Regions from separate parts of the Homo sapiens genome. Here regions 1 and 2 are each linked to region 3. Evidence: fine-mapped expression QTL. A gene starts in region 3. Each other region holds a variant in brackets. All regions are shown on one strand. Distances are between the middles of the regions.

Region 1 (11,425 bases), 24 kb after region 3:
TTGGCCTCCCAAAGTGCTGGGATTACAGGTGTGAGCCACTGCACCCAGCCCATTTCCTGCATTTTTATTGACACAATTTTAAATAAAATGCTTGAAATCCAACACATTTCTGTTTTCTTCTGAAATGTTCTAAATAGAACATTTATTTGTCTAATAAAGTTATAAGAGTCATGAACCATTTCTTGTTTGGAGAATTAGTCTTTTGGTAATCAGAAAAGGAACAGGTAGCAAATTGCATTCCAAAAATGAAACTTTTAATCAGAAGGAGACATTTTCAGTGTGATTAGGCAGTTTTCTGTCAGCACAGGTTAAAGAAAATCAACCAATAGACTAGATCCCAGAAAACTTTCTAAGAATGTCCATTGCTTTTTTCAAAAAACAGACTTCATTCATAGTATTAAAAGCATTTGTATAGCTTGCTTCTTAAATGCTATACACAATTTTTCATATATCAACATGGAAAGGTTTCCGCTTTTATTCAAAATATGCAAATGAGTCATAACTGTTACCATTCACATAAGATTTTATTGATAAATGTATTCAGTAAGTATTGAGTGACTAGTTGTATCAGACTGTGAGGATACAGAATCCTGCCCTTAGAGCACTTAGAGCTTGGAGAATCTGATGGCATAATGAATAGTTACAGAAGGTGTTTCTTTTTCTTAACCATTCTTCTCACTAATACTTTTAACAAAAAATTGAAGGTCATACTTTATTAGTATTTTCAAATACTCTCTTTGATTAGAATTGCCTAAAAACACTGCTTTTCTAGGTATCTTTAATTTGATGCTACAATGGCTCACATTATGAACTTATCAAGGAAGATTACTGCCATGATTCACTGTGGTGAATTTTTCTGTTTAAAAAAAAAAAGATGGAAGGAAGGAAAGGAAGGAAGGAAGGAAGGGAGGAAGGAAGGATTAACATAGCTACCTCTGAAGCTTTTTATGGTACATGTATAATAAAAGAAGGAAAATTTGGGAAGCAGCAATTTGGGAGCACAGAGATAAGGCAAAGTGAAATATAGGTAGAATTGTACAACAAATCAGAATTATTTTTAACCAAGTTTGGGAAAACAGAAGGTTAATAGTTAATGCAATCTAAATAAAATCCTATGACATAACCTAATGATTGAGAAGATCCTAAATTAGATACGTTATCAAGAGGAAATAGTGTATTTAAATTCCTTAATTGAGCCAGAAATAAAATTTCAGCCACCAATTGCCCATATAAAGCCTACCAAGTGACTAGAATTATGTCTCTTGCCTAGAAATAGGTCAATTAGATAAATGATTGCAAAGAAATAAGTGATGTCTGATTTCATAAGTCATTTAATGCTTAATAACCAAAGTAAATCAATCAAGGGTTAGGGAAAATAGCAGTTCTAATCTGTTGGTTTTGAGGCTTGAGACTTATTTTGCTTCTTTAATTTTTAAATCTCAGCATTAGAAATCAGAATTTTTCATTACATTTCTCTTTTCTTCAAATAGTCTCAAGTGACTGTTGAATTCATAGAATTACATATGTAAATTTTAAAGTGAAGATTTACTTGATAGGTTTTAAAAATGTCAATTGCACAGAGAAGGTGCTATGAATAAGAATTCACACCTGCCTAGGGCAAGTAGACAATTAAAAAAAAACTCTACATCATTTTAAATATACATTCTCATACTTTTGGATCAGAACATCAAAAGAGGAACTTTGCCATTTAGAGTTGCCATAAACTTGCATTTATTGAACACTCAGAATGTGAGCACAAGTGATTTTAATAATAGCACAACCTCTCTCAATAACTCACAGAAGCTCCAAACGAGTCCTTTCCCTTCATTCTGAGCCTATTGTCTACCACCAAGCTCAGAGCTTATTAGGTAGCTTTAAGATTCAGTGAAGTCTCTTATTTCTATAAATTTGAAGGATAACTGTTTCAAAGCATAAAATACAAGAAAAGTATACATTGAAGGACTAGTTATTGGGATTTAACATTCTCATCAGAGCCCACACTCATCCTCCAGGTAGACTAATGGGGCAATATATAGAGATACTGCATGTTCACCAAACTCCCATCTTTTTTTTTTTCTGGACACACAGCTTTAGTACATTTCCCAAATGCCCTTGGTGGGGTCCCGTCACTGAGTTCTAACTAATGGAAATGATGTGCAACACTTGCAGGCCTGGTCCCTAAAATTCATCTTGCATAGTCCACAAAGTTCTGTCATTTTTTTTTTTTTTTTTTTTGAGATGGAGTCTCACTCTGTCACCGAGGCTGCCGGGCAGTGGCACCGTGTCGGCTCACTGCAACCTCCATCTCCTGGGTTCAAGCAATTCTCCTGCCTCAGCCTCCCAAGTAGCTGGGATTACAGGCGCCCATCACCACGCCCAGCTAGTTTTTATATTTTTAGTACAGATAGGGTCTCACCATGTTGGCCAGGCTGGTCCTGACCTCAGGTGATCCACCCGCCTTGGCCTCCCAAAGTGCTGGGATTACAGGCATGAGTCACCATGCCCAGCCAAGTTCTGTCTTATCTGCCCATACTATGCACAGAATTCAGGGAAAGGCTGAGGTCTAGGGGGATGGGAAAGGCATGCTGAGGGCGTGTGCAGAATAGTTTTACCTCTCTTCCTCCCACTAAACTTGCATTGGACTGTGACTTGAGCAAGAAATTAACCTATTTTGCATTATACCCAGATGCTTTAGTTTTTATCATTGCAGTTAATACGTGATAAATGATACAGTTGGTAAAGGAAGATGGTGGGTAGGAGAATGAGAAAGCAGATATCTTCGCTTTATAGTTTGCCACTAATTCCATATAACTCCCTGTGGAGGTGAATATGGTAATAGTAATACCCTATGATAGAAGTGCCAGACATAAACAAAAAGTTACCAAACCAATATATCAGGGATCCAACGTGGTTGAGTACCTCGCTACCATCCATTTTTTTCTTCAAGCAAATTCTGTATATCTGTATCACATTTCCCCTGACATATTTCTCGACTGGCCCCTGGGATCCAATAGTTCATTTATTCCATTCACAACATTTTCCCCTTGATTATTGAGCATTATTATCCTGCATTCCATTTCCAAATTTAATAAATGATTTTTTTCAGAAATTGTTGATAACCACTTTTTTGAAATTAATGAATTTGGCAAAAAGAGGAGAACAGAATTGATTATTTGAGCATAAAACTGTTATAAAGGCCGGGTGCAGTGGCTCATGCCTGTAACCCCAGCACTTTGGGAGGCCGAGGCAGGCGGATCACTTGAGGTCAGGAGTTCGAGACCAGCCTGGCAACATGGTAAAACCCCATCTCTACTAAAAATACAAAAATTAGCCAGGCATGGTGGTGCATGCCTGTATCCCAGCTACTTGGGAGGCTGAGGCAGGAGAATCGCTTGAACCTGGGAGGTAGGGGTTGCAGTGAGCCGAGATCACACCACTGCACTCCAGCCTGGGCAACAGAGCAAGACTCCATCTCAAACAAACAAACAAAAAAAGCTGTTGCAAAGTTTTTTTTTTAAATTACACTTTTGTTATTGTTAAAAATTAAAATTTTCTTCTCTTTTTCTTCTACCAGATACTACGTTTTAATAATATAATAATCAAAACCAGTATAATGGTGATGCTGTAATAGCCAGATCAATGGACTGAAATAGCCCAGAAATGAGTTGGGCATGGTGGCTTATACCTGTAATCCCAGCACTTTGAGACCAAGGCAGATCACTTGAGACCAGGAGTTGGGCAACATAGTGAGATCACTTGATCACCTGAGCACATGGATTGCTCAAGGCCAGCCTGGGCAACATAGAGAGACCTTGTCTCTACAAAAGATTTAAAAAATTCACCAGATGGCCCGGTGCAGTGGCTCACGCCTGTAAGGCCAAGGGGGTGAATCACAAGGTCAGGAGTTTGAGACCAGCCTGGCCAACATGGTGAAATCCCATCTCTACTAAAAACACAAAAATTAGCTGGGCGCGGTGGTGCACGCCTGTAGTCCCAGGTACTTGGGAGGCTGAGGCAAGAGAATTGCTTGAATTAGGGAGGTGGAGGTTGCAGTGAGCCGAGATCGCACCATTGCACTCCAGCCTAGGTGACAGAGGGAGACTGTCTCAAAAAATTCACCAGGTGAGGTGGCACATTGTCTGTAGTGCCAGCTACTCAGGAGGCTGAGGTGGGAGGGTTACTTGAGCATGGGAGGTCAAGGCTATAGTGATCTGTGACTGCACCATTGCACTCCAGCCTGTGTGATAGAGTGAGACCCTATCTCAAAAAATAAAAATAAAGCCTGGGCACAGTGGCTCACGCCTGTAATCCTAGCATTTTGGGAGTCCAAGGTGGGTGGATTGCCTGAGCTCAGGAGTTCAAGACCAGCCTGGGCAACACGGTGAAACCCCTCTCTACTAAAATACAAAAAATTAGCCAGGTGTGGTTGTGTTCGCCTGTAATCCCAGCTGCTCGGGAGGCTGAGGCAGGGGAATTGCTTGAACCCAGAGGCGGAGGTTGCAGTGAGCCGAGATCGTGCCATTGCACTCCAGCCTGGGCGACAGAGTGAGACTCCGTCTCAAAAATAAATAAATAAATAAATAAAATAAAAATAAAGCCCAGAAACATACTCAAATATATAGAGACCATTCTTTAGTATACAGTATTTTTATATATATTTGAATGTGTTTCTGGACCTTCTGAGTGAACATTTCCTTCCCCCATATTGTGTTTTCTTCCCTTTTTTTTGTATTCTTCTTTTAAAAAATCATAGTGTGTTAGCAAAGCCCCAAAATGGATCCCAGTGATCTCCGCCTCCTGGTATTCACACCCTGTGTCTTGGTATCCACATGCTTGTGAAGTCCCTTCCCACTTTGTGCCAGGGTTGGTCTATGCGAGCAGTAGAACTGAGCAGAAGTGATGATATGTCATATGGTATGTTGTTAGGTCATCAAGACCATGGCTTCCATCGTAGGCAGTCACACTCTTTCTCTCTTGGATCATTTGCTGTGGGGAAGCAAACTGTCATATGAGAGGACACTCAAACAGCCTCTGGAGTCTCATTTGCTAAGGAACTGAGGACTCCAGCCTGAGAACTCAGGCAAGTAACTGAGGCCTGCCAACAACCATGGAGAAAGCCTGGAAGTGGATCCTCCCTCAGCCTTCAGTCGAGACAACAGCTGCAATGACAGCCAAGCCAGCGCCACCCAGCTTAGCCACCCCCAGAGAACTAACTCTCAGAAACCATGTAAGATAATACATGTTTGTTGTTTTAAGCTGCTAAGTTTTGGGGTAATTTATTATACAATAGATAATTAAAACACATAGCATATAAATAAAATCAATAAAACCAGTATGGGTCAGTAATGAGTAAATTAGATAATTAGACAAATTTTGACATTTCTGTTTCTATGTTAATTATTTTTCTTCAGAAAAATTCTCTACGGGTAAAATATGTTAAGAGTGGTTACCAACGGACATTTTAAAATTAATAATCAGTTTGGGAGGCCAAGGCGGTTGGATTGCTTTAACTCAGGAGTTTGAGGCCAACCTGGGCAACATGACAAAACCCTGTCTCTACAAAAAATACAAAAATTAGCCAGGCATGGTCGTGTGTGCCTGTAGTCCCAGCTACTTGGGAAGCTGAGGTGGGAGGATCAATTGAGCCTGGGAGGCCAGGCTGCAGTGAGTCAAAATCATACCATCTCAATCCAGCCTGAGCAACAGAGTGAGACCCTATCTAAAATATATACATGTATATTAACAATTATCTCTTGAAACTAAAGTATAATCACAGTACTAGTGTACTATTTTCCATTTTATTAAATGCACTAAACAGTATTGCAATGTGTTTGTGTTTATTAAAAAATATTTTGGAAATCTTTGGGAGAAAAGCTACTTCAAATTAGTCTGAAAACTATCATTTCCTTCTAGCAATGTGTAATAATGTAATGACTGCTTAGAATTTCCTGAGAGGGACTGTAACATATATTTTAAGCATAATATTGTAAACAAACAAGTTCTTTTGCAGTACTTGAAGATCTTTTTTTGTGACTATCCCCCTTATATATTATGAAGATACATTTTTTGTGACTATCCTCTTTATATGTATTGTGAAGATAAGGTTTTTTATAGTGAATATCCTCCTAATGCTACTAGTATTGTTTGCAATCTGTC[A/G]TTATTCTTAGTGTAAAATTAAACTTCAACAGAGTACCTGTGTGAACTCTTAACAATTTTTGAATTAGTGAAGCCCCAAATTAATGATGCTTTACTAGATATAAGGGAACTGGAAAGGCTGAAATCTCAAGGTAGAGTCAAGGCAGTAATTCCTAGCAGCCTGTGTTTCTCGGTGTTCTTCATGCTTCACAGAGGTTGGAATTCAGCTTCTGGTTTAAGTTGTCTTAATCTTGACCACAGTGGTAATTTTACTTTCCCACTCTTTTTTCCTCAACTAGAATGACTCGGAGAGTTGAGCTAACAGAGGTAGAATATTGATTCGTGAGATAGGTTCTTAGAGATATAAGTGTGCGCATGGAAGAAGGAGGAATGGCGTGGAAGAGCAGGTGGAGACGGCCACAGCAGGGCTTAGAAATTCCCTCTATCCAAAGCCTGGTTGTGAGGAATTTGATAGAAAGGATTGTGTGGGCTAAGACATCAGTTTTTATGGTAATATTTGAGGGAGAAAATTGAGATCTTGGAATGCATTTGAAAAAAAGATTAGTTTTAATACAATTATCACTTTACCTGAGACCACATCTCAAAATCAAAATCAGTGATAATGTCTTTGCATTAATGTTGGAAAGACTTATGCTACTTCTGCATAATTTTCTGGTAAATTATGTAATGAGTGGTCAGTATAATAGCATGGTTATTGTGAAGGGTAAGATAGTATGTCATTTTTTTCCCTCTTAACATGTAAAGGCTATTTTCCATATTATACATACATTAATATTTATATGTGAATGAACAAATAGAAATATCATCAAGTAAAACTGAAGGAGTTGATTTGGGTTATTTCTTGTGTGAAACGGATGAAAAGAAAAATATTAGAAAATTTGATTACGTTATGAAGTAAACAAAATACAGCTTAATGAATGTGAAAAGATAAACTAGAAATAGACATTTGTAATGCATATAACTGACAATGGATTACTATCTAGAATAGAAAGAATTCTCACAAATACATGTAACCCAGTAAAAAAAAAAATGGACAAAAGATATGAAAAGACATTTCGGAGAAGTAATACAAATGGCCATAAACCTTGGAAAAAGTGCTGAGCCACACAGTAATCAACGAGATGCAAATAAAAGACAATGATATAATAATTATGTCAACAAAAAACAAGGAAAAGTCTTTTTTTTGAGACAGATTCTCGCTCTGTCTCCCAGGCTGGAGTGCAGTGGCGTGACTTCGGCTTACTGCAACCTCTGCCTCCCAGGTTCAAGCAATTCTCCTGCCTCAGCCTCCCGAGTAATTGGGATTACAGGCGCCCGCCACCATGCCCAGCTAATTTTTGTATTTTTAGTAGAGACGGGGTTTCACGATGTTGGCCAGGCTGGTCTTGAACTCCCAACCTCAGGCAGTCCACCCATCTTGGCCTCCCAAAGTGCTGAGATTACAGACGTGAGCCACCGCGCCCAGCCTAGAAAACTCTTATAACACTAAGTGTTATTGAGGATATTAAGCAAGGGGAACTGTCATTACTGACAGAGGTGGAAGCTAGTACATTCCCTTTGTAGAGAAATTTTGCATTGCCTAGTAAAGTAGTATATATGCATAACCCGTGACACAATAATTTCACATTTAGGTGTACTGTATCTTGCACAAATTGAATAGGAGACATGTTGAAGAATGTTAATAGGGCTTTTTTTTTTTTTTTTTTTTTTTTAAGACAGAGTCTTGCTCTGTCACCCAGGCTGGAGTGCAGTGGCATGATCTCAGCTCACTACAACCTATACCTCCCAGGTTCAAGTGATTCTCATATCTCAGCCTCCTGAGTAGCTGGGATTACAAACCCGTGCCAACACACCTGGCTAATTTTTGTATTTTCAGTAGAGACAGGATTTTGCCATGTTGGCCAGGCTGATCTCAAAGCCCTGGCCTCAAGTGATCTGCCTGCCTCAGCTTCCCAAGAATTTTTTTTAGAGACAAGGCTCACTATATTGTCCAGTGAATTAGTCTGTTCTCACGCTGCTAGTAAAGACATACGTGGGACTGGGTAATTTTAAAGGAAAGAGGTTTAATTGACTCAGAGTTCAGCATGGTTAGGGAGGCCTCAGGAAACTTACAATCATGGCAGAAGGGGAAGCAAACACAGCCTTCTTCACATTGCAGCAGCAAGGAGAAGTGCTGAGCAAATAAGGAGAAAGCTTCTTATAAAACCATCAGATCTGGTGAGAACTCACTATCATGAGAACAGCATGAAGGTAACCTCCACCGTGATTCAGTTACCTCCCATGGGGTCCCTCCATGACACATGGGGATTGTGGGAACCACAATTTAAAATGAGATTTGGGTGGGGACACAGCCAAACCATATCACCCAGGCTGGAGTGCAGTGGCTGTTCACAGGCGTGATCCCAGTACGGATCAGCACGGAAGTTTTGACGTGCTCTGTTTCCGACCTGGGCTGGTTCACTCCGCCTTAGGCAACCTGGTGGTCCTCCACTCCCTGGAGGTCACCATACTGATGCTGAACTTGGTGCAAACACCTGATTGGCATAGCGCACTACAGTGCAGAACTCCTGGGCTTAAGAGATCTTCCTGCCTCAGCCTCCCAGTAGCTGGGACTACAGGCATGCACCACAGCATGTGGCAGCATTCTTCTTTATTTTGTTACAACCAGTCTTAACTGGTAGATAGGGTGTTATGCTTAATAGCAGAAAGTTAGAAGCACTCATCAACAGGAGGATGGATATATAATCTGTTGTATAATCATACACTGGAAGGTATTAAGTAACAAATATTATTCCACTACAATCACATATGTCAACACAGATGGCTCACAAACCTAAGGCAAAACAAAAGAAATGTATCACAGTAATACACAAAATATAGTTGTGCTGGTATATCATTAATTGGTATATCAAAACATGGTTGTATTTGTATATCAATTTTGTATATTAATAGATACATAAAAGCAGGCAAAATTAAGCGATATGTTGTTTAGAGATACCTTTTTTATATATAATACAAATGGTAAAATCCTAAGGAAAGCAAAAGAATGCTTAATACAAGTTTCAGCATAGTGGTTAGCTCTAGAAGAAGAAAGGCAGCTCTGACTGGTGAGGGGCCGCCAGGGGCTTCTAAGTTTCTCATAATATTCCCTGTCTTAAGTTGAAGCAAGGTAGAAAAGCAAGGTTGTTCGTGTTATTGTTATTCTTTAAGTTGTGCATATATATACTCTAAACCCTTTGCATGTGTGATGTATCTCATGACAAAATATTTTAGAAATGTGTATGGAGTCTACACGTTGGGAAGTTGGCCTGGATACAATTTGCAAAATGAAGACAATTGTTATATCTATTAAATCATTGATTTCCCCCTTAAATATTTCTTGAACTTGCCCCCACTTTCCTTTTGTATTTGTTCTTTGCCCCATGTCCTTATTATTTCTAATCTGGGGTATTACTGTCACTGTCTAACTGGTCTTACCCCTTGGATTCATCTTCCTCACAGTCACCAAAATATAAATCTATTCATGCCCCTACCCTCACTATTTAGAACAAAAGTTAATAGTCAGGCTTTCCCTAGAGTTGTGCTCTCTGCTATCAGTAGCCTCCAGAGGTATTTATTATACACAGGTACTACCTTGATACCATATTACTCATAATTAAAATATTTAAAAGACTATAATAAAGATATAATAATTATTTTACATTATTTATTCAAGAACAAAAACATGTTTGCTCTTAAATATATTATTAATAAGAATTTTTAATTCTTGTTAAAATTAAAGGAAGAGCAATGTGATTTAATAAGCTTCGTGATTTTTGAAGTTTTGGTGCAATCTTAGTAATGCAAAGCATCAGAGATGTGGCTGCAGTATCAATTTTTGATTCTCAGTTTTAATGGCTGTCATAGCTGCATTTTTCTCATTAATGTTTTCCTTATATCCTGAATTTTCTCAATTATTGTTCTCTTTTTTTGCACTGTAGTATTTTTGTGAGTTGTATCAAAATGGATGGGCTAGGTAATAAATAATCTGAACAAACCATTAGATTCAGTTTATGCTCCCAAGAAATAAGTGTTTATAACTCAGGCCTTCCAAAAAATAAACATTTTATAATAAACAATGGATAATTTATGGAGACTTTACTGCAATAATAAATGCAAAGATGAGTAAATCTTCTTCAACAAGTTCAGTTCTAGAATATCTCAGGGACATAACACCAAACCTATCAGTAAGAGAGAATATTTACTGGTCATATACATATTCAGTTTGTCAGATTATCTTGTTAATTTTTTATCAAGTTCTGTCTTATATTGCATTTGCTAAGTTGGAAGAATAACAAAACCTTGGCCATACCTGAATTTCCTGTAAACCGTCTCAGAATGCAAAGGAGGTCAAGGGACTAGCTTTTGTTCTTAACAATTCAATATTGTTACATGATGCAGAAGTTACAAAGCTTTCATCAACAATTACTGACTACTTTCATTGTCATCCTCATGTGGGAGTTCTGAAAGACTGTTTGAGATGCATTCAAGTAACAGATGAGAGTGCGCAGTGCAGCCTTCTGTATTAAACAAAGAATAAGAGAAAAATATTCACTTCTATCCAATGTGTGAGCAATAGAGCATCAACAAACAAAACAGGCACTAGCCACAAAGCCTGTAGGAATTCAGGAAAGGAAGATCAAAGCCACACTCTTTAGAGGTGAACAGTATTAAAAAAATACAATTTTATTTGCAACAGAATTTTTATAAAATAAAGACATGCCCAAACAGACTATTAGCCAGATACTTCTTTCAAACTGAGTTCCAGACAGTGTTTCACTTTATAAGGACTCCAGTAGTACCATATCCAACACTAAAGCAGAACAGTTCACAAAAATATTCTGCCAGTGTCACCATTCAGGCCAACCAAAACCACCCACAGTTGATAAATTCCTAAATCCTAATTTATTAAAAAACCATAAATGCCCCCACATCATTCCAGATTTATTTATACCTCTCAGAGACCTAAGTCAGTACTTTACATCAATATTACTCTATTCCAAAAGGATAAAATGATTTACTTCTTTGACATTAAAAAAGTGAAATATCTAATTAGAGAATACATACACTCCAGATTTATGATGGCAACTGACAGATAATATAAGAACTTCCTAAATTTAATGCACTATTAAAATTGCACCAATAGTCATATTAGAATAATTGTCAAAGTAAGATTCAGAAGACCCTAAAGTAGTATTACTTTGGGAGGGAAGAATCCAATTAGCATTCT
Region 2 (7,896 bases), 200 kb before region 3:
TAGGGCACCTCCTGGGAGGAAAACGCCCATCCTGACTTCTCAACTGTGACAGGTCCCCCTCACAAACGCCTTGCGGGGGGGTGGGGGGGCGTTTCTAAACACTTGCATGTTCTTACAAGGGAAATGTTTTTATTCTTGGGCGCACCAAGTTGGCCGCCTCCTGAGGTGGAGTACGGACCAGTTGACAACAGGGCTCCTTTTCACCTCCACGCCCAACCTTTTCCATTTCTCCTCAAACGGTTTTGGAGAAGGGCGGAGTCATATCATTTTAAAGGAAACTTGGAACCTCACCAATACAAACGCTGGTCGAATGTTCCCAGAAACTTCCCTGCATTAGCTCTACCGGGCGCGGGGAGCAGAAAGCGCATTTCCTGAGTCCTGAAAAGCGCGTGCGCGCCTGTGTGCTGCCGGCGTTTGGGCGCGCCTGCTTGTATGTATGTGTTCGCGGGCGCGCGCGTGTGTACGTGTGTGTGCGCGCGTACGCGTGTATGTTCCTGCGCGCTTGCGGGGACGTGCTTGTGGAGGGCGGAGAGAGGGATGGGCGTGGCTAATATGAAAGCTGCATCTTTACTAGTTAGCTACCATGCGTCATTATTTATCAAAAGATATATGCTGCTTAAACACAAATACGTTTTAAAATATATTTTAGGCAGTAGGGTTTTGGGTTTTTTTTTTGCAAGTTCTTTTGGTGAGTAAATTTAGTGATAAATGATTTTTTTTTCTTTTGAGACAGTTTGCTCTGTCGCCCAGGATGGAGTGCAGTGCAGTGGCGCGATCCTGCAACCTCCGCCTCTCGAGTTCAAGCGATTCTCCTGCCTCAGCCTCCCGAGTAGCTGGGATTACAGACGCGCGCCACCCCACCCAGATGATCTTTTTAAATGCAAAATGCCATCGACGCAGAAAATCAAAGGTATCCATTGTATCTGTGCGTTTGAGTTCTAGGATATGACAAAGAAAAACAATTTAAATATTACGTAAATTCAGTAGGAAAAAGAAAGATGATGACTGATAAGTACATTGTGTACCTCCTTAAGCTGTGCTGTCCAGTAGGCTGTCCTCTAGCCATATGTGGCTACTCAGCACTTGAAATGTGGTTGAGACGGAAAAACTGAATCGTTAATTGAATTTGAATTAAACAAAAACCAAAAACCTGATGCTCGATTCAATTGTTGGAATACTTTTAAGTGTGTTTGCAACAACTCAGATATATGAATCTGTTTTTCCAACTTAAATTTTATGAACTCTAACTTTAGCATATGAATTGAGATGTGCTGTAAGTATATATCAGCTGGACTTTTTTTTTATTTCTGGACTTACTACAAGAAATTTTCAAAAAGAATATTGAAGTGCACATTAAAAATTTTTATATATGTTTAAATGTTTTGGATGTAATGGGTTAAACAAAATATTACAATAAATTGTACCTGTTGCATTAGATAACACTGGCTTAAAGTATTACAACACAGTAGGGCGTGGTGGCTCACGCCTGTAATCCCAGCACTTTGGGAGGCCGAGGAGGGTGGATCATCTGAAGTCAGGAGTTCGAGACCAGCCTGGCCAACATGGTGAAACTCCGTCTCTATTAAAAATACAAAAATTAGGCAGGCATGGTGACACAAGCCTGGGGTTCCAGCTACTTGGGAGGCTGAGGGAGGAGAATTGCTTGAACCCAGGAGGCAGAGGTTGCAGTGACCTGAGATTGCACCACTGCACTCCAGCCTGAGCAACAGAGCGAGACCCTGTCTCAAAAAAAAAAAAAAATTACAACACAGAATAATTATATATTTATGGATACATGTTATATATTTATGGATACATTTTCTTAAGTGGTAAAAATGAGAATATATGGATGGGATGATACATCCCAACTTCAGGGTGATGCTCATCTCCAACGAAGGAGGCCAAGGAATTTGTATAT[G/T]GTGTCAGAGTAAACATAAAATATAAAGAGATGAATTTCTAAATTTAATGGTTTTTTGGGGAAGCAAGAATTGCAGTTCAGGACATACACACAGACTGAGTGGTCTTTAGTATGTCAGAAGAACAAAGAGAAGGTCGAGAGTTTTATTAGAAAGAGAAATGTTGCTACTGTTTTGAAAGAAGGTTCATTGGCACTATAGTAAAGTTTTGGGAAGCTGGCAAGCTCTGATTGGTGAGTGAGAGTGGTAGATAAAACCAGTCTTAGTCATAGGAGATTGTTTCAGCAACTACTCGGTAAAACTGGTCTTAGAGTTACTGCAGGCCGTTTCAGCAGCTGGGTTGTAAAAAACTTAATTCTTAATGCTAGAGCTGTGTGCCCTGATTGCTTTCTCCCCTGGTCCCTCGATTCTGATTTAGTTGGGTATGACAAGAATGATCCAGATTGTATGATCAATTTTCACACTGGGAATGGCTTAAAGATGGTTTCTTCTGAATTTTAAAGTTTTTATTTATTAAAAATATCTGAAACATGACAGTGGGATGTTGAATTTTCATATTTTTCTTTGTACATTTATGTGTTTTTAAAATAGTTCATGAAATTCATATTGTTTGGTTCTTGTGCTTAAAAAAGCTTATATCTTCTGCAAAATGTGACCAAATCATGTAAATTCAGTAGGAAAAAGAAAGATGCTTACTGATAAGTACTTTGTGAATCTCCTTAAGCTGTGCATGTATGTATATGTATAGTTATCAGTTTCATATGAAGCTTACTCAAGTAAAGAACTGTAGCTATGGCTCCTTTACACACAATACAATGGTTGTAAAAAGATCCTATTAAACAGTCACTTGTTGCATGCTAGAATCTTTTTCTAGGCCCTGGAGGCACAAAAATAATTGAGAGGGTCCTAGCTATTTGGGAGCTTCTTGTCTAGTAGGGCAGACAGGTAGCTTAACAAGCACATAATACAAACCTCAATAACAATAGAGAGAAAGTACAGGCATAGCACATAGGAGGAAATGATTCATTTCTGGCAAGTTGAAAAGATTGCTGGAGTAGGGGACATGTTAATTCTCACTGCCAGATTTAAAGTGTATCTTGAGTGAATCTATTTGTTTAGATACATTTTTACAACCATGTTTTGTTACTTATTTCTACAAATCTTCATATTTAGGGCAGGTATAAGAACTCTTTGATTTGAGTGTAACTCACAGTCAAGGTTGGAATCAGGTTTTAGGGGGGCTTCAAGATTATATAATCTGAAAGGTCTTTTTAAAGAAGTATGTAAAATTATGAATGCAAAATTAAAATTAGGTACAGGACTTCATAAGGGTCTATCCAAGTGAGGGACTCTGAAGTTTGAATCCTTTAGCTTCACAGTAAATCTACCTCAGAGTAGACTAGGTAAAAAATATAGATCTATGAAACCTTAATTATAGGGGGGTTGTTCATATCAACAAAAATGCTCTTTGCTTTCTAAAATGGTTCAAAATATGATTCTTAAAAAAGTATGTATCCGTGCCTGTCTTCCCTATAGGCTTTTAACATGATTGCATTTTTCTGGCTTTACTTTAAAATAAGCAACTAAATAATTTTATTTAATTTACAAAAACATATAAATTGGCCAATAATCCCAACATGACCACAGTAGAAAATTCAAATAATACAAAAAGGTTCATATGAAAAACAAAAGCCTGTTTTACCTCATCTCCTCAAATCCCTGTCCCTTGAAGCAACCAGTGTTAACAGATTATTGTTTCCTTCTAGAAAAAAGTATGCATTTACTAGTATATACATCTCTATATGTGAATAATTCTATATTTTACAGCAAAAGTTCATTCCGTTTTACACCACCTTTCCTTTATCTAGTTTTAAACTCAGCCATCATACAGAAAATTGTATAAAGCATGAATGTCCAGTTTAAGCAGTGCTGTGGTTTCAGTGTTTGTGTGTGTCCCCTCCCAAATTCATTGTGAAACTCAATCCCCAATGCAACAGTACTAAGAGGTGGGGCTTTTAGGAGGTGGTGAGGCCACCCTCATGAATGTGATTAGCGCCTTATGAAAGGGATAGAGGGGGCGAGTTTACCCCTTCCATCTCTTCCACCATGTGAGGATGCAGCAAGAGGCACCATCTTGGAAGCACAGAGCAGCCTCCACCAGACACCAAGATCAAATCTTGATCTTGAACTTCTCAGCCTCCAGAACCTTGAGAAAATAAATTTCTGGTTTTTATAAATTACTGAGTCTCAACTATTTTGTTATGGCGGCACAAATGAACGGAGACAAGCAGTTATGGTAAAATGCACATCCGTATAACTGCTACCCAGGTCAGGAAAGAGAACATTGCTGAAAGGGCCAGCTTCAGGGACTTGCAGTGGCACAGGACCCCAAGCTCAGAAGCCAACATGCTCCACTCTCCTCCTCCTTCCTGCTTGACATTTAATGCCCTGCAATCACCATCATGTAATTCTCAATAATTTTATCTTTGAATTTGTGTTTTATCAGTGAAGTATCAATGGGACAATGCATTGATTCAGGCAACATGGGCCTCCTGCCACCTCCCTTCCTCCCCAGAATGAGTTCTGGCTGCTCACTCTCTCCACTCCACCCCACCCCACCCTCTGCTCTGGCAGAGGCTGAGCAGGAGGTACGGTGCAGGAAGTGTCTGGCTGAGGTGCAGGATCCTCCCCATTTCCTCTGAACCAGGAGTCAGGCCCCTAGCTCCTTTGGGTCAGTTTTCCACCTGTGCCCAAGGGAGTGCCACATTAAATAGCAAATAAGAAAACACCATGTGAGGAGAAAGAGAGGGAGGGAGAGAAAAAAGATGTTTGTTCTGGACACCACAAATTATGTAGATGGCCCTGATTGACAACATGCCAGAAAGCCATCACCTGCCACTTCTTCATCATAAATCCCATCTCCCAGCTAGCAGGAGTAGCTATCTTGACTTTTATGGTATTTGTTACCTCGTTTTTCATTACAGTTTTGCCACATAGTTCTTCAACTTTTTTTTTCAGTTTTGCTGTTTTTGAACTTTATATAAGTGGACTCATATACTTTATATTCTGTTTTCTTTGGGTTCATTTACTCTGTTTTTCAAAGGTCTACTTTTATGTAGTTTAATTCTTTCTCTTCATTATGGTATGAATAAACTACAATATATCCATTCTATTGTTGATAGACATATGGATTGTTTCCCGTTTAGGGCTATTAAAAGAATGTTGCCATGAACATTCTTATTCTTGTACATGTATCCTGATACATACGTGACTGCAGGTCAGTAAGATATATATGTTGTTAAGTTGGAGTGAGAACTTCCAGCTCCTTGCTTACATATGTAAACAGAATTGCTGAGTTTTAAGGTAGGCGTAGATTCAACTTTACTAGATATTTCCAAACTTTTACACTTCCTTAAGCAATATATGAGAGTTCTGTATCTTTGCCTACCATTTGATATTGTACTTTCTAAAAAAGATCAAGTAGGTATGTATGGTATCTAATTGTGATTTTAATTTGAACATTCTTAGTTACTAATGAGATTATATATTAATTGGTCTTTTGGATTTCTCGTTTGGAAGTTCCTAGTTAGGTCTTTTGCCTATTTTTCTATTGGGATTGTGTCTTTTTCTGTTGATTTGTAGTAGTTATTCATGTTTTCTGAATAACAGCCTTTTCACAATTTTACATATTGCACACATCTTTGCCTACTTCATAATTTGCCTTTTGACTCTGCAGTGGCAACTTTTGTTTAAAGTCTTTTAATGAGGAAAAAATATATCTATCTTTTCTTTTCTGACTGATGATTTTTGTGACTTAAGTAAGTTCCTTATCCCCAAATCATGAAGATATTTTTCTACATTATCTTCTAACAGCTTCATTGTATTGCCTTTCTCATTTAAGATTATGATTGATTTTTGTGCACAGTGGTTGAGGTACAATTTTATTTTGTATATGCTACCCATTTGACCAAGTACCATTCACTGGAAAATCTATCCATATTCCATTCTTTTACAGTGTCACCTTTGTCATAAATCAAGTTGTATGTATGTAGGTCTGTTTCTGAAGCCTAGTCTTTCCATTGTACTTTGCCAATTCCACAGTCTTAATTATAAAAGTCGTTCAGAAAAATTTTGATAACCTAGAAGTATAGATCTTCTACCTTATTTTTTTTTCGTCAAAACACAGACTTGGTTATTCTTGACCCTTTGTATTTCCTTATACATTTTAGAATCAGCTTAAGTTCCAGAAAAAAGAAAAACCAACCAAATGAACAATAAGACAACAACAACAACAACAAAAAAGGCCTTTTGGGATTTTGGATGATATTGCATCAAATCCATACATTAACCTGAGAGACGAGCGACTTCTTCAACATTGAGCCTTCCAATCATGATTTTCAATTCATTTAGGTCTTCTGTAATGTTTCTTAATATAATTGTATTTGTTGCTATGCAGAAGTTTCACTGATCTTTTATTATATCTCTATATATATTTGATATTTCTGACACTATTGTAAATAGTATCTTTTTAATATTTCATTTTCCTTTTTTGTTGCTTAAATATATATAAAATAAGCTAATTTTCCAAACTAATTTTTATATCCAGCAACCCTGCTAAAATTTCTTATCCAATAAAAATATAAATGTATTTGTGTTTGGGTTTCAATGCATTCAATCATACCATTTTCAAATCGTTGAGTTTTCCTTCATTTTTTATTCCCTTTTTTCTTGTGCTACTACAGGTTCAGGACTCTAGAACAACATTATAAAAGAGGTGTTAGCAGGCAAAAATGTCTCATTTCCAGTTTCAAAAGAAAGGCTTTTCATGTTTCGCTATTATGTATCATGTCTGATACAGATTTTTTTGTTTTTCATCTAAATTTTTATACCATTTATATGTTCATAACAACCTCATGTTTTTAAGGTGTGCAAGATCTGACCCAGTGTCCCTATCTTCATCATCAATTATTAGTGCCTTCTCTCTTTTGTTAATCAGTCTCACCAGTGTTCTATCAATTTTATTAGGCTTTTCAGAGGACCTGAATTTTGTACATAGTTTTTATTGTATTTTTTTCTATTTCAATTATTCTATTTTCTTTATTATTTCTTTCTACTTTCTATTTTGCTGTTCTTTTACTAACTTCTTTACAAATATGTACATTAAAAGCTACAGATTTCTCCATCAATATTGTTTTAACTGCATCACACAAGTCTTGATATGTATTATTACCATTGAATTTAAAACATCATCTAATTTTCCTATCATTTTTTTGATGCATAGATTTAGAAGTATGTTTCTTTTTTTTTCTTTTTTCTTTTTTTTTTTTTTGAAATAGAGTCTCACTCTGTTGCCCAGGCAAGAGTGCAGTGGCTCTATCACTACTCATGACAGCGTCAACCTCCCCAGGCTCAGGTGATTCTCCCACCTCAGCCTCCCAAATAGCTGGGACTACAAGTGCAGACTACCATGCTCAGCTAATTTGTTTTTTGTGTGTTTTTTATAGAGACAAGGTTTCTCCATGTTGCTCGGGCTGGTCTCCAACTCCTGGACCCAAGCCATCTGCCAGCCTCCCAAAGTGTTGGCATTACAGGTGTGAACCATGGCACCCAGCCTAGAAGTAGGTTTCTTATTTCCAAACATATGCAAATAATGTGATTATCCTTTTCTTATTGATTTCGAACACATATAAATTGTCACTTTAGAACTCTGTATGATTTAAATCCTTTAAAATTTATTGAGGGTTTCTTTTAACTTATCTTCCAGTCACTCATTATCTCTTTAGGTGTCCCTAACCTGCTCTAAAATTCACCCGTAGTCTTTGTACTTTTAGTTATTACATTTTTTAGTTTTATAATTCCTATCTGGTTCTTTTTAAAACCTTGAATGTCACTTTTTTATGATTTCTAGTTCCTGGACAAAATTTATATGCTTGACTTTTTCTTTCATGAACATAGTAAGCATAGTAGTTTTTAGACTTTG
Region 3 (9,732 bases):
AGATAAAATGGCTTTGGTAAGGTGGAACTTGACTGCCAGGGTAATCAGTTCAGCCACTAATCCTCATTTAAGCTATATTCCTTTCAAACCTGTTAGCTTGCCTATCACATAAAACCTCTTGGCCTACTAGTTCCTGAATTAGTCCTATTATATACACCCTGAACCTAAGTGGCATTAATGACTTGACTAAAGTTGCATTTGCATATCCAGAGAGTCATTAGTTTACACACAGCTTCTCACCAGTACTGAATGTTTTAATGCAGGGGTCCCCAACCCTGGGTCATGGAGCATAAACCCTATTGTGAACTGCATGCAAGGGATCCGGGTTGCACACTCCTTATGAGAATCTAATACCTAATGATCTGAGGCGGAACAGTTTCATCCCCAAACCATCCCCCACCCAACCCAACTCCCCCAGTCTGTGGAATAATTGTCTTTGACAAAACCAGTCCCTGGTGCTAAAAAGGTGGGGGACTGCTGTTTTAATGGATCTGTCAACATTTCCTTTAAAAACCTTTATTTTCAGAGGCTTATGGGTCAACTGTAGACAGTCACTCAGGGCTAAAACCTGGGATAAATGGTGTTAGTCTGGGACATAATTTATTTAATTAAAGGAACTTTCTGTGCTTTGCAAGTCCAAGCAGATAATCTTAATAAATGCTGACCTTAAAATATCCAGAGGGCAAAGACTAAAAAAAAAAAAGCTTCCCATAATCATAAAATACAATACAAGAAGGTATACATTTTGCTTTGAGAACTTTCCATAATGAAACAAATAATCTATCATCCTAGGCCTCCTGACACCTTCACTACCATATCCAATAGCCAAATCCTGATGCCTTTGCATCTTTAGGAGCTCTTGAATCAATTTATTTTTTTCTATCTCTACCACCGCCCTGCCAATCTAAGCAAGGATTATGTCCCACCTGAATAATGATGACCCCCACCAGGACTCCTGCTACCTGTTCTATAGACAAATACATACTTTCTGTAGGCAGCCAGAGTGATCTTTTCAAAACACAAATCCACTCTTCCCTACTTAAAATCTTTCAACGGCTTCTCACCGCACTTAAGATCTCCTCCTTAGCATGGACTACGAGACCCATGCTTTCCTGTGTGGCATCATTCTACTTGTCATTCTCCACGTTCCAACAATATTTATCTCCTAGTTTCTCACTATTTCACTCATGCTACCTCCTGCCTCAGGACCTTTGCCCAAATGCTCCTTCTCAAGAATGCTGCCACCCACTTCCAGATTAACTACTTTTCTTGAAATGTTCAGATTTCGCCTCAAAAGTCAGAGTAGGCAGCTAGGCAGACATGAGCAGGGCAGGAAAGGCCCCCCACCACCAGGAATGTCAGGCGGCCATCAGGTGATGGTCAGGCCGTTGTTAAACTGTCTCTCTGAAATAATAATTGGTCGCGCCAACACCATGGAAAGGCAGTCTCCCATTAGATAGAAAACACCTAAAGCTGGTTATCAGCAGGTTCCCACTAAGATCTCAGGAGTTGGGCAAGTGGGCTCCAGCATGTGCACTAATAGGCAAAATGGCAGCTTTTAACTAGTATATGCCCTTCCTCTAGGAAGGCTCAAATTGTAAGGGAAAAATGCCTCAAGTGAGCATGAGTAAAACTTCAGTAAACACACTGCAGGCAGCCCCTCCCCGCTGCTGGCAGGCCACTGCGCATGCAGACAGCCCACCCCAAGGGAAGAATCACGGGAGAAGAAACGCAAACCCTGGAATCATGCCAATGTATAAAACCCCAAGTCCAGGGTCAGACGAGGTACTTGGATTTCTCAAGTAGCCCACATGGCCTTCTTCAAAGTGTACTTCCTTCCGTTCCTGCTCTAAAGCTTTTTAATACTCTCACTCCTGCTCAAAAATTTGCCTCGGTCTCTCACTCTGCCTTATGCCCCTCCAATAAATTCTTTCCCACAGGAGGTAAGAATCGAGTTGCTTCAGACCTGTGTGGATTTGCTACTGCTAATAGTCATTTCTTCAAGTAAGGCTTTTATGACCAAATTCCTCCATTTTCTTGCCCCCTATGGTTTTCACTATGAAAGCAGTAGCACAATTTTTATTTATATATTTATCGAGGTTTGATTGCTGTGTGGTTTTTACAAGATCCATGAGATTAAGGACAAGGAGTATTTCCTTAACAACTAGTACCATGCCTGGTATATAATTGGCACTCAAAAATGTTCAAATAAATCAATATTTAAAATCACACAACAGAATATGATCGGAAATGTAAGGTCATTTTTCACATCATTCACTTCAGAGAAAGGGCAAGAGGCCCAGAGATGGGAAGGAAATAAGAAACATGTTTCTTTTGTCTTGACTCCACAGGTGGACAGACCTAAAACAAGGAAATAGTGCAGATGAGAAAGGACCATCCCAAGTTGTCAAGGCTGTAACAGAATTTAGTGTATGACATATTCATAGTTCAAGACAAAAAGTGGCACAGGGTGAATGGAGCCACAGGTACAAGCTTGCTGGAGTAGAGGCAGAACCCATACCTGGTAAACTGGATCGTTCAGGCTATTTAAAGGGATCCAAAAAAGTCCATGTGTAGATCAGCATTAAAGAGAAGCAGAGATCTCACCATGGGTGGAATATATGCAATAGTCATCGAAGTAAAAGAACCACAAGGGGGAGGAGAAACTCAGGAGTCAGAATCCTCCCTACAGGATTTGTCCTTCTAGCACTGTACCTTAAAAGCTCCTAGGTTAGTCTTTATTAAAGGAAGGCAATAATCCCTTATTTATGCTCTTATTATTTATAAGCTACACTTTAAATTGCTTGTATTACTATTTACCTGGGAAGCCAATAAAAGGGTCTTTCTTGCTCTTCTGATACCTAAGCATTCCTCTTAATGTTAATTATGTTAAGTCTTTAAAATCTACCTTTTGTTTTTGACAAATGACAGAAATTACACTGGATCCACTGAGAAACTTTATCAAGTACACTGAAACAAACAAAAAATCAAGATATCATCACCTTCTTTATCATCACCATATAGTACTGAAATGGGCATTATGGCCCATCCTTTGTTTGCACTAATAAAATATTCCACGAGTTGGCAAGTGATGCTGATGTTCCGCCACCTCTTTAAAAGATCATCAGAAGGGCGGGACATTCTGAACCTAGCTAGTTTTGTCAGTTTTTCGTCAGTTTCTCTACCAGAAAATAGGGGGTTAAACATTTCTAGCTACATGTAAAAAGCCATTTGATGACTTAAAACAAATATCCTCAATTGCAATATTCAGTTATCCTTTGTCAATAAGTCATATTGAGAGCAAAATTATAAAAAGATCACCATCACTCCATGAGCTGAGAAGCTTAAAACCGCAAATGTACTGAAAAGGAAAACTGATACTTTTTATTACCATCAATTTAGATGACTTAGATGGGAATCTATCCCAGATATTACAAAGGGATTCCACTGCTGTAGAGACTTCAAATACTAAAACTTCCAGATTACATCTAATCTCATGATATAGGCGAAGAGCTGATAATGGGATCTCCTCCTAGGATTCTTACTCTTGAAAGGACGCCACAAGCCTTTTTGCCCAACTTCTTGATGCTAACTTTCCAGAAGGAAAGTTAAATAAACATGACATAGAAGCGATGCTCATCACACTTGCAAAAAGCACTTTACAACAGAGAGAGCGACTCGACTCCTCCTGCAGCCCCGCCGCCTCGGCGGTCGTGAGCCCCTCATACCCTCTCCTACCCCCACTGGCAGCCGGCCCAGTTGGCTGTCCCAGCGGGGAGGAGGAAGCAGGTGGTGCAACGGTTCATCCGGGGGGAAGCAGGTCAGGGTCGGGGGCGAGGCCGGTGCGCGCCGCCCGCTGCCGGGTCAGGGAAGCCGCAGTGCCCGCGGTCCCTTCCCCGCGCGGCGCGGCTCCGGGTAACTAATGTTCCGAGGCGCCTGACTAAACCCTCCAAATCCAAGGAATGTCAGCGCTAACACTCGCGCCCTGGGCGGCAGACAAATGCGTCCCAGCGGAGCCGCCGCGAGCTCCGCGCCGCCGCTCCCCTCGGCGTCGGCCTGAGCTAGCCGGCAGCCGGCGCGGGGCGGCCGGGCGCCGACACAAGTTAGTTTTCCGGCCCAAGCAGCCCTGCCGCAGCCAAGGAAGAGGAACTGCTCCTCTTCCCCCGGATAGCGCCCGAGCACTGCCACAGCAGGGGCTTCCCCAGGCGCTGAGGGCTGGGGGCGGCGGGCAGGCGGGGCGGGGACGCCCCTCCGCCATCTCCGGCCAACCGCCCCTCCCTCGCCCAGGGACGCGAGGGGGACCGGCGGTCCGGGCGAGGCCTCGGCCGCGCATCGCACCCCGGCTCCCCGCCGCCGGAGTTGAGGGGGAGGCGCGCTCTCCGTAAGAGCCGGAGGCGGGGCGCCATCGCCCTCCCACTCCCCGGCGGGCGGGCCGGGGGAGCCCGGGGCTGCGAACACCCCCAGACGGGCGGCTGCGGGAGGGGAGGCTGGACCAAGGGGCCTGGTCCACCGGACCAGCGGTGGCGGCATCGGCATCTCGCCTCCTTCAGGCCTGCACGCGCCACAGGCCGCAGCCTGGACCAACCCCGCGTCCCCGGGCCGTGAGCGCTGCGGTCCCGGCCCCCCAGAGCGGGACGCCGGGCGGCCGCAGCCCCCCGGACCCGGCTCTCCGCCCGCTCCGCCCGCAGTCCCGGCGCGGAGAGCGGCCGCCCGAGCCGCTGCCGCGGCAGCGCGGGTGTCGGCGACGGAGCCCGGGGCGGGGAAGAGCGGAGGAAGGGGCGGCGAGGGGGCGGGCCGGCGGCGGCCAGGGAGGTCGGAGTGCGCGGGGCTCGGCACCCCCTCGGCCCGCGCTGCGCCAGCACCACCTGCGGAGCTGCGGTGCCCACGCCGTGCCGCGACCCCGCCGCCCCTGCTCCCTCCACACGCGGGCAAACAAAACAAGTTGCCGGTCGCTGCCGCCGGAGGGGGCCGGGCGGGTCACTCACCCTCATCCTGCTCAGCGGGCTTGGGTCGTCCGGCCGCGGGGTCAGGGAAGACCAGAGGACCACTAGCCCCAGGAAGCTTCCCACCACCAGCAAACTGCGTAAGATGAACCCAATCTTCAGCCTCATCTTCCTCCGGCGGCGAGAGACTCACAGCCCGGCGCAGCCGCCGCCACCGCTCTCCCCTCCCTCCTTCCCCCTCCTCCGGCTCTCCTCCCCCTCTTTCCCCCACCCCTACCGCTACGGCTGCCGCCCTCTCCGCTGCCTGCCCTTTCCAGCTCCAGATCCGGAACTCCCCTCGGCTACACCTTTCCCCGGGCTCTTCCCTCCGCTCCTCCCCGTGGCCCCCTCCCCTCTGGCGGCCACCGCAGAGCTCCGACTGACCCGTGTGCCTCGCTCTGCCAGGCTGCCTTCCTCTCTACCTGCCCCCTTCCAGATCCGCAGTCCCCTGCTCTCCACGCGAGCCCCCTTCACAGTCCCTGCTACCTTGTAACTAACTTGCACTTTTCCCGAGTCCGGTTCTTAGCCTTTGCCCTGCAGCTCAGCTCCTTAAAGCTTTCAGATCCCCAAACTTTTATTGTAATTATGGACAATAACTCCGTCCTTAACGCCTGTGCCCTCCGGGATCCCGTGGCCCGCCGCCCCCTCCGTTGGACCTGGAGTCGCTCTCGTCTGCACCTCTCCCTTAGACCCACTTCCCTGAGCCCCTTGTCGAGAGGCTTTCAGGAAGCCAACCAGGAAGTGGGACTACCGCTGCTGCTGCAGCAGCTCCACGTGGCTGATTTATAGCTGAAGGGTTTTTTTTTTTCCTTCTTATTGATTGTTCTTGCTTTTTCACACGGCTCCTTAAGGTGGTGAATTTGTAACCGAAAGGCCCAGGTGAGATGTGCAAATATCACTGGATTGGAGGAGCTCACTTGGAAAGCCAGTATTCCTCCTGAGCTAATGAAAAGAAAGGCTGTCGTCTTATGCCAAAAGCAATACCAACCTTGTTCACGGGCTGGTAAGTTTCAAATCCAAGGACCACGGATTTCAACTCCACCCTCATTGCGTCCCTCAGATCTGATATTTGCCACTTGATTTCTGCTTTTCAAACGCCTTTTCTGCCTGTGTTACCTAAATTACACAGTAAAGGATATTGGCAAGTGTTTAGCCAAATGCCCCACCCTGAGGAAATAATTTTTCTGCCCATATCTCCCAATAAAGATGTCTATGCCTTTATAGCAGAATGTATGTAATTACATTATCAGTGTACTATATCCTAAACTGCTAATTTAAATTTAAGTCGAACAAAACGTTTTAAGATTTTATCCTAAGTTTTTTGGGGTTTTTTTTCTTTTCTTTTTTTTTTTTTTTTTTTTTTTTTTTTTTTTTTTTTTTTGAGACGGAGTCTCTCACTCTGTCACCCAGGCTGGAGTAGAGTGCAGTGGTGCGATCTTGGCTCACCTCAACCTCCACCTCTCGGGTTCAAGCAATTCTCCTGCCTCAGCCTCCCCCGTAGCTGGGACTACAAGTGCACACCGCCACGCCCAGCTAATTTTTTTTTTTTTTGTATTTTAGTAGAGACGAGGTTTCACGGTGTTGCCCAGGCTGGTCTCGAACTCCTGAGCTCAGGCAATCTGCCTCGTACTCCCAAAGTGCTAGGATTACAGCTGTGAGCCACCACACCTAGGCTATCCTAAGTTTTAAGATGGTAACAGCTGATTCTTTTTTCTCGTACTGTCTCACATCTGCAAGTTTTTTGCTTTAAAACAAAGCTCAGTTATGTAAAGTTTTACAGTGAAACAATTTCAATTATCAAGATAGATAAAGAATTATACCAAACTACCTTCATGTGCTTTTTGGCTTGGCTTACAATAGCTAGTATATCAGGGAGTTCTGTAGATGCCATAATTTCAAAATTTCCACAAAATATCTGAAGTGATATCCTCATGAACAGCATGGTTCCGGAAATGTAGAATGGATTGTAGTTAGGTGTATTATTGGTTGGCTGAAGGACTGTACATCATATTGTATAAAAGTCCACTATATAGAGTACCTGGAAGAGGGACTGTCAAGTGTTAAACACAAATCACTGCTTGACTTAGCATTTATATCAGCCCCTTAGGTTAAAACCAGTTGTTTTAAGTAGAAGATGAGAGATTTTGCCTAAGACCATTTTTTTTGTGTGACAGAGATCTAGAGTGTGTAATTCACGAAGTATGAATCTGCTGGGTAATGTGATATGAAAAGCGAATGCACCATTTCTTGGTGATGATTCAGGTCAGCGTTGGGACCCAGGAATCTCCTGTTAATCAGTACCCTGGTGATTTTGATCCAGGTAATCTGGGCACCACCTTTGGAGAAACACTGAAAGGAAGCAAGGTTGCGGGGGGTGGTTGGGAAAAGTCTTATATGGATATCTTTGGAAGACAGAAATAGGCTCATTTATGGACTCAACTTGAACTGTTCAGAAGTGAGGTGGACTCCTTTTCTTTTTTATTTATTTTTTTTTTGAGTTGAGGTCTTGCTCTGTCACCCAGGCTGGAGTGCAGTGGCACATCCATAGCTCACTGCAGCCTGGAACTCCTGGGCTCAAGTGATCTTCCCACCTCAACCTCCCGAGTAGCTAGGACCACATGTGTGAGTCATCATGCCCAGCTAATTTTTTTTTTATTTTTTGTAGAGACGGGGTCTATTATCTGGTCCTGTTGTCAAGGCTGGTCTCAAACTCCTGGCCTCCAGCGATCCTCCCTTTTTGGCCTCCCAAGATGCTGGTATTACAGGCATGAGCCACCATGGTCCACCCGGACTCCTTTTCATAGGAGACAGTTCCCTAGGCAGAGACTGGGCTTGAAACAGGTAACTTACAAGGCATCCTGTGATCATAAGAGAATAATTCCATTTGAAATCAGCAGCTGAAGTCCACCTGAATAATTAAGTCTTTCACTTGTGTTATTTTCACAGGGGAGACAGTTTTTTATTCTTAAGAAGGTAGGAAGCTTTATTTTTACTGTTATGAGCATAGCTGGGCAAGTATGCAAATGGAAAGTGATACCTATCATCAAAGTATTGAGGATGGTCCTTTGAAGGCCCTAGTATTCTGAGAACATCCTGCCACCACTACCACCCCCCAACTTTAGTTTTACACAGAGAACTTAAAATATGTGTGAAAGAGTATATAGTTATACAGTTGTATATTGATGAATAGGTATATAGTTGTAAAAGTTTATGTTTCTCTGAGTCTTAATAACTTTTAAAAGAAACTGCAAGTAAACTAACACAGGAACAGAAAACGAAATATTGCATGTTCTCACTTATAAGTGGGAGCTAAATGATGAGAACACATGGACACATAGAGGGGAACAACACACACTGGGGCCTATTGGAGGGTGGAGGGTGGGAGGAGGGAGAGGATCAGGAAAAATAACTAATGTGGGTACTAGGCTTAATACCTGGGTGATGAAATAATCTGTACAAACCCCCATAACACAAGTTTACCTATGTACCAAACCTGCACATGTACCCCTGAACTTAAAAGTTTAAAAAAAGTGCAAATATACCTTAAAACATATGCCCATTGCAGTATTTGCTGGGAGGCAGCCTTTGTAGGGTTGACAGAACTCGTTTAGAAAATGAGGAGCTACATTCAAAGCTTCAGTCAAGATAAATCACGTACCTCTCTGAACCTAGGGCTTTTATCTGCCAAATAGTGATTACAATACTCAACCTTATGATGTTCTCAAAAGGAATAATTGAGATCAAGTACATATACAAATATAAAGTACAATTAGTGTAATGGAACAAGTCTCAGGTGCGTGTGGCTATAATTCTTGTTTTATGAATGCTGCAGTTCCTCTAAAGAAGAGGGTAGAGACTAGAACTGAATGAGATGGACATAGAGATGGCCAAGAAAAGCATCGTCCTCTGCCAAGTCATGGGGTCATGTGTGGTGGATGGTGACATGGTGTCCTCAGCTCAGAGTCCAGCTGGGGGCTCAGAAGCAAGGTAACTGAAGGGAGAGAATTATTTGAGCACCTAGTGTGTGTAAGATGCTTCACATTTATTATTTCACCTAACCTCTACACAACCTGTTGTGGGTATTACTGGTCTCAAGCTGGGATTCAAAGCAGGTTTTTCCAACCTCAGAATTCTTGCCAGACTGATTAGCCTTCTGCATCTGGAACATAAATGTTTTCAGGCAGCATAATGTGCAAGAGGTCAGAGCCTAAAGCTTTGTTATTTTTTAATTTCTCCACCATGTCAACTCTGTTACAGGGAAGCCCAGCAGAGGGAATTGTATCCATTTTGGGGCTACACTACCCCAATGCTATGCTGCAGCCAAGCTGAACTTCTAAGTTTCTAAATGTAACTCACTTACCTTCAGGCCTTTGTACGGGGAGTTCTTTTTGCCTGAAATACCTTCTGACATCTTAACATTACGCTTAGATGTCAGTTACAAAAAAGCTTTTTCTAGACTCTCTCACATGTCCCACTCCACACCCCTATATCTCTTCCCACCAATGTACTAGGGTAGGTATCCTGCTAGGTACTTCCACTGCACCCTCTACTTTTCTTCCCTAATGATTACCACTATATTGTAATTGCTTAATTTCTTTTTCCTATACCCAGATAAAAATGTGTATGAAGGTGGAGCCTTGTCTATCTAGTTCGTTATTGTTATCCGTGTCTGGTATGTGGAAAGGGCTCAGTGAGTATTTCTTGATGGAATGCTGAATGAATAATGGGATTGAAAATATAAAAGGCAGAC

Evidence for each region.
Region 1: its variant is fine-mapped to the expression of GALNT7-DT in whole blood (TOPMed, PIP above 0.99).
Region 2: its variant is fine-mapped to the expression of GALNT7-DT in whole blood (INTERVAL, PIP 0.96).

The regions. Positions count from the first base shown.
Region 1 is chr4:173,139,013-173,150,437 of GRCh38, reverse strand. The region is part of intron 6 of GALNT7-DT (GALNT7 divergent transcript); the gene reads left to right. It also overlaps the pseudogene RN7SL253P. Among named protein-coding and RNA genes, the nearest start is that of GALNT7, 24 kb to the left of the region's middle. The variant A/G (reference allele first, on the strand shown) is at 6,157.
Region 2 is chr4:173,362,448-173,370,343 of GRCh38, reverse strand. It overlaps SAP30-DT (SAP30 divergent transcript), which reads left to right. Exons shown (of 4, transcript NR_183973.1): 1 at 1-52; 2 at 734-910. Among named protein-coding and RNA genes, the nearest start is that of SAP30-DT, 4.3 kb to the left of the region's middle. RefSeq lists enhancers at 1-169, 2,635-2,704. The variant G/T (reference allele first, on the strand shown) is at 1,919.
Region 3 is chr4:173,164,215-173,173,946 of GRCh38, reverse strand. GALNT7-DT (GALNT7 divergent transcript) reads left to right here and starts at 4,295. Exons shown (of 7, transcript NR_134242.1): 1 at 4,295-5,083; 2 at 5,834-5,985; 3 at 7,157-7,302; 4 at 7,648-7,823; 5 at 8,815-8,969; 6 at 9,594-9,654. GALNT7 (polypeptide N-acetylgalactosaminyltransferase 7) reads right to left here and starts at 5,136. Exons shown (of 12, transcript NM_017423.3): 1 at 4,986-5,136. The coding sequence starts at 5,111. RefSeq lists silencers at 3,758-4,987, 5,218-5,337, 5,408-5,457 and enhancers at 5,768-5,867, 7,946-8,025.